2 separate regions of the Homo sapiens genome follow, and region 2 is linked to region 1. Evidence: fine-mapped expression QTL. A gene starts in region 1. The other region holds a variant in brackets. All regions are shown on one strand. Distances are between the middles of the regions. Region 1 holds the start of TCAF2 (TRPM8 channel associated factor 2). Region 2 has its middle 22 kb from the start of CTAGE6.

The links. PIP is the estimated chance that this variant, and not a neighbour inherited with it, causes the effect.
Region 2: its variant is fine-mapped to the expression of TCAF2 in whole blood (TOPMed, PIP above 0.99).

What each region holds. Positions count from the first base shown.
Region 1 is chr7:143,619,619-143,622,529 of GRCh38, reverse strand. It overlaps TCAF2 (TRPM8 channel associated factor 2), which reads right to left and starts at 1,556. Exons shown (of 8, transcript NM_001363538.2): 1 at 1,510-1,556. It also overlaps a transcript of LOC101928466 not described here. RefSeq lists a silencer at 1,492-1,651.
Region 2 is chr7:143,734,205-143,737,115 of GRCh38, reverse strand. No RefSeq gene overlaps it. Among named protein-coding and RNA genes, the nearest start is that of CTAGE6, 22 kb to the left of the region's middle. The variant C/T (reference allele first, on the strand shown) is at 1,657.

The DNA.
Region 1 (2,911 bases):
TGGGGTTGGTACACATACAGTGAGCACGGAATAAACGAGAGTGTCTGTCCCTTTGCTGTCCTTTTAAGTTTCCCGGGTTGCCGAGGGCAGCGTTGCAGATTGCAGTAGTGCAGTAGTCCCCTGGCTGCCTGTGCCGCCTCCCTTTGCGCGTCTCTGACGAGCCCACTGTAAGGGACTTTCCTCTGTGCTCTGATGGCTTCTCACCTCTGCAGGTGCACAAGGCAGCCCTGAAGTAGCGGTGAGTTGACACTAGGGTGAGCTTCGCCCAGTAGAGCGGGGATTCACAGAAGAGTGCCCCGTGGCTTTCCCGAGGTGCCCATCAGAGGTCCTCGGAAGGCACCCGGAGGAAAGGAGCGCCATGTGGAAGACCCTCAGCCACATGCTCCTCCTGGCTTTCCCTTTTTTCCTTGTCTCATTCTCTCCACTTCCTCATTTGGGCTTTTTGGTCTCACTTACCCCCAAAAAATTACCTGCAGGTAAGCCCTTGCATAAGGCTTTGCTTTAGGGCAGAATCTAAACTAAAACACACACCAAGCCCTTGAGCCACAAGTGCCTCCTTCCTCTCTCCCTCCTGCTTCTATATGCAGTCAACCACCTCATTTGGTTAATCTCTCACCATCTCTCTCAAACATCAGTCCCTTTAGTTGGCAATCATTCCAGACTAAACCAATATGGTTTTAGTCCCCAGGATGTATTCTCATCCACAATCGTCCTCTACAAGAACTCTAACAAGAACCGTTACATTTCGTCCACTCTCTCTAAGGTGAAACTTGCAGAGCGCCTCAGCCTGGCTTCTCCAGGGTCTGGCATGCCAGTGATTACTGGACGTTTTTCCTGCTACTTTCTTCCACTAAATCTCTCCAAGCTCGGAAAGGTTGGCATTCTGAGCATGCCCTGCATTTCCTGTAGAATTCCATCTCTTCCCCTCTTCCCTTCCTATCCGCCACCTTTTTCTTAATACTGCTCGCGGGAAAGAAATTCACAAAAGAGAGCCAATACTCGGCAGAGCATTGAGAATGCGGGTACCTGATCTCAGCCTCAGAAGTTACCAGTGGAAAAAAGCAGCCGAGAGAGATCCGGAAGCCTGAGCTCAAGATCGTGCTAGCTACCTCCCAGAAGACAAGCGACGTCTTTCACTTCTGGGGCAGTACCAGTTTGACAGGATAAACAAAAACAGACAAAAAACCTCAGATGAGTAATATGTCCCGGAAAGCTGACCCAGCATTCCGCAACGAAATGTGCCCTCGTGCACGCACACACCATGCACATCTTTGTCAAATTCGTAATTTACAAGTTCAAATAGGAGGGAGAAACGTGTTTTGAGACAAACTGCAAATAGCACCAGACTAACAAAACGAAATGAAACCAAAGACCTAGACCTAAGAAGGGAGGGACACCCCCTGACGCCGGGTATGGTCTGGGGCCTCCAGCACTTTGCGGCGACCCCCAGTGCCCTAGGTGCTCAGCTACCGCCCCCACCCCAGGACCCGCTGGGATTGGAAAACTCACCCCTGAGCAGTGCGGATACCTAGGGACTGACGGACAGGCTCTGCAGTGGCGCGCGGGGGACGGGTCGGAGGCGAGGCGGGGCGGGGCGGTCCCGGAGGCGGGGCGGTCTCGGAGGTAGGGGCCGTCCTGGAGGCGGGGCCGTCTCGGAGGCGGGACTGTCCTGGGGACTGAGCTGTCTCGGAGGTGGAGTCCTGCGGTCCCGGAGGCGGGTTGTACCGTAGGCGGGGCTCTCTCGTAGGCTGGCCGGTCCTGGAGGAGAGGCTGTTCTGGCGGCGGGGCTGTCTTGGAGGCTAGGAGGTCTCGGAAACTGGGCTGTCCCGGAGGCGGGGCACAGGCTGGGGTGAGGCGGAGCCGACCCTGAGGCGGGCCCGGGGCGCGGCTACCGCTCCCTGAGCCACGCCCGTGGTCTCCCGTTCCATCGGTGGACCCCACCTCGGGCCGTGCTGCGGGCTCTCGGGGCGCCTACCAGGTGAGCGACCCCGCCTTCCCGGAGGGATGCTTTGGCCTGCATGGGGCCCCAAACCGGCTCCCTCAGGGTCTCTGCGGGTTCTTGGATGCGAGAGGGGACCCAGCCAGTTTGCTGTCGCACTTGATAAGAAAAGCAAACCCTAAGTCTCCAATAAACCATATTTGGGGCGAATAGTTCCCTAACAACAACGTATGCCACGGGGGAGGCCCCGCGTGGAATCAGGCTCCCTTCCCTCCGATCTTGGGGTGGGCTCAGCAGAGCCGGTAGCCGCCGCGTCGCCTCCGTCGCTCGAGCCTCTGCGTGGAGGGCTGCCCCCTAGTGGTCAGCTGCGGGCCATGCACTTCGAGCCCGGTGGATGCTTATGGCCATGGTGCGGGGTGCTCAACTAGGGCATTTTTCTCTCAAAGTATCCACAGAAATGCTGCCCAGCAAGTTATATTCTTGCTGGGAGGGAAACGTGCCTGTGGCATCACTAACACAGATTCGTCCGTGCATGGCTGGAGAAATTAAGCTAAAGCTATAGAGTGGCTGGTGCTCGAATTTCTACGCAAGAGAGGTCAGAAGGTGAAAATCAAGGTGGAAGGGTGTGGTCAGGAGGAGGATTTGGTGTAGTCTGGAGTTTAGGAACGTCTTACCTAGGAAAGTGATGACTGTGCTAGAATGAGGGGAAAAAAGTAGTCTGTCTGCATTTTGCCCACCATTGAGTCCTCATTGCCTATTTTCATTTCTGACATAGAATAGGCTTTAGTTTCTTAATAAATAACTAAATATATGCTAAATAAATAAGGATATAGTGAACGTCCAAAAATATCTGTCGAATTAGTGAGTTAATAACTGACTCTTCGGAGGACTAGTGGAAATCTGATTGGCAGAGGACCAAATACATTCAGGTTTCAGAAATAAAGAGCAAGGAGAAACTTACACAGAAAAGAA
Region 2 (2,911 bases), 110 kb before region 1:
CCATTTTAACAATATTTGTGAGCAGTAGGAGCTTTGACGGTCCCATTTAGTGTGACCAACCACTAAGGCTTTAATTTTTTCTGAAACTGTTTCGAAATACTAAGTTTTCAAATAAGTCAGGGACTTTAAGGCATTCAGGGGAGGAAATACAAGCAGGGTCATTTTAAATAAAGGTAGGGTCATCTTTAAGGCTGGTCGCTGTTGCTCATGCCGGCAATCCCAGCACTCTGGGAGGCCGAGGCTAGGTGGATCATGTGAGGCAGGAGTTCGAGACCAACATGGCCAAACCCTGTATCTACTAAAAATACAAAAATTAGCTGGGCATGGTGGCAAACACTTGTTGACCCAGCTATTTGGGAGGCTCAGGCAGGAGAATCACTTGAATGCAGAAGGCAGAGATTGCAGTGAGTTGAGATTTCATGACTGCACTCCAGCCTGGGCAACAGAGCGAGACTCCATCTCAAAAACAAACAAAACCACCACCACCAACAACAACAATAAAAACCCACTTCTTTAAAACTTAAAAGTGACCATTATTATTTCCCTAAAGTATTCTAGGGTGATTTCTGCCTCTTGAAATGTCTCCAGTTTGTTGGGAATTTAGATTTTACAGCTATTGGAGCTAATAACCTATGGGAACGTATGTGGTCCCTTATCCAATGCTTTTAGACATAATGAGAGGAGTTGGGGCATCCTTAAAAAGGATAAAAACCTTGAGTGTAAGACCTGCTTCCTCTAAGACTCCATCAAGCTCTTATTTTGAATCGCAGAATCTTTAAAACCCTCCAGTCTAGGTTGGACACGGTCTTGGTATTGGAAAAAAAATCAATTGTATATCCTGAGCGAAGTGTTCCTTGGATGAATGACCTTTACTGTAAAGTAACTGCTTTTTGTGTAACTAGGAATAACCTGATTGGTTTTGGCAGTTGGACTCTGCTTGCTCTGTGATTCAGTATTCAGACACATAGTCTAATGCAGGCAGAGTTACAGGCGATGGCAGATCCAGTAACTCCATAGGACAGTATGCTGGCTGAGAGTGTGGGCTCCAACTTCTAGGGTTGGAAATGTGGCTTCACAGCTTACTAGTTCTCAGCAAAATGAAGAGTGTAATTGTACTTACTCTGTAGGAATGTTGTGAGCATAAATAAATATAAAAGCACTTAAAACAGTTTCTGAAAAGAAGCGGTTTATTGATGATTCACCTAACTTACACTGATATCCTTGGGAGTAAATGTGGTCTGGAAAATAGATTTTTAGGGTCATTGCTTGAATGGGATTATGAAATTATATAAATGCACAATATATTTTTTGTTATAACTCCCGTCTGCTACAATAATTCACGGAATCTTCCCATATGTAACTTTACTAATTCAAACCTGAATGGTCCTCATTTTAACTACCTGTTCAAATGATTTGTTATTTAAGACAAAAACTATGTGGCTGGGAGTAGACTGCATGATCCTATTAAAAGAAGTATCATTTGTGAGGGTGAATCAGTCTCATGCATTGAATATGTATTTATCTAAGTGAAGCACACAGCTGCTTAGGTTCCAGTCTGCAGACCCAGGAAAGCATTGTTCCAACTGAGTGCCTTACCTAAGTGCTGAGAATTTTTTTTTCATCATTGTGAGTGTCCTTGCATGGCTTGGTTCTCCA[C/T]AGTGGGGCCAATTACACTGGACTTTAATTTCCAAATCTCCACCTAAGTTTTTCTTTTTTAGCAACAGAGAGTGATATGGCCAGGCTTTGTGTCCCCACCCAAATATCACCTTGAATTGTAATACCTAGGTGTTGAGGGAGAGAGCTGGTTGGAGGTGATTGGATCATGGGGGCCAGTTCCCCCCCATGCTGTTCTCGTGATAGTGAGTGAGTTCTGAAGAGATCCGATGTTTTATTAAGTGTTTGGTAGTTTCTCTCTTGCTCTCTCATCACTCACCTGCCACCATGTAAGACATGCTTGCTTTCCTTTTCGCGATGATTGTAAGTTTCCTGAGACTGCCCCAGGCTTGCAAAATTGTGAGCCAACTAAACGTCTTTCCTTTATAAATTACTCAGTCTTGGGTATTTCTTCATAGCAATGTGAAAATGAACTAATACAGACAGTTAGTTGTTTTAGGGCTATTAAGGGCCTAGGAATAAAAAGCAGTGGCTTTGTTGTTGTTAATTCTCCCCTTCCATCTGTACTGCACAATAAAGATGATTGGGTTTTTTTCAGATTATTCTTGATGAAAAGGACAATACATTCAAGAACATTTTATAAATTTGTTGGTAGCCTAGGAAAAAGAAACAAAGGGATCTTTCTTATTGAATTTTAAAACAGAAATGGCTTATCAAACTGCTCCATTGGGCTGCCTTTGGGTTTATCCTCTTGATATGAGGTAATATGATATTTGAAGTGGTGTCTGGGAAGCTGTTCCTCAGGTAAGCTCTTGGTTACTCCTCAGGGTGAGGACTTTTTCTCTCCATCTGTTACTCAACTTCTTTGTTCTCTAGATCTCCAGCTTGAGAGATAGTTTACAATTTCTATCTTAATTTTTTCTCAACACCATTTTTCCCAACCTATGCTTAACATTGCAAAATGATGCTCTCTCCCTTTATCATCTTGAAGAGTTTATAGAGATGATGGTTATATTTTTTTATGAAAAAAGTTTCTCATGGCTTTCCCAAATGAAAAGTGAATCAGTACAAAGAGTTGTGTGTAGAAAATGTAGGAACTTCTGCAAGCTGAGTACGGGACCAAACTGTCCTCCTACCAGAACTGGGAAGTGCACCAATCTTGCACAAGAAGGCTTTTCAAAATGGAAGCCAGGCATGGTACTAAAGACCTTGCAGCAGGAACAAGTTCATGAAAATAATATCCTGAGAAACGCAATCATGCCATGCCTATAAGGAGATAGCATTGACTGAAAAGTAG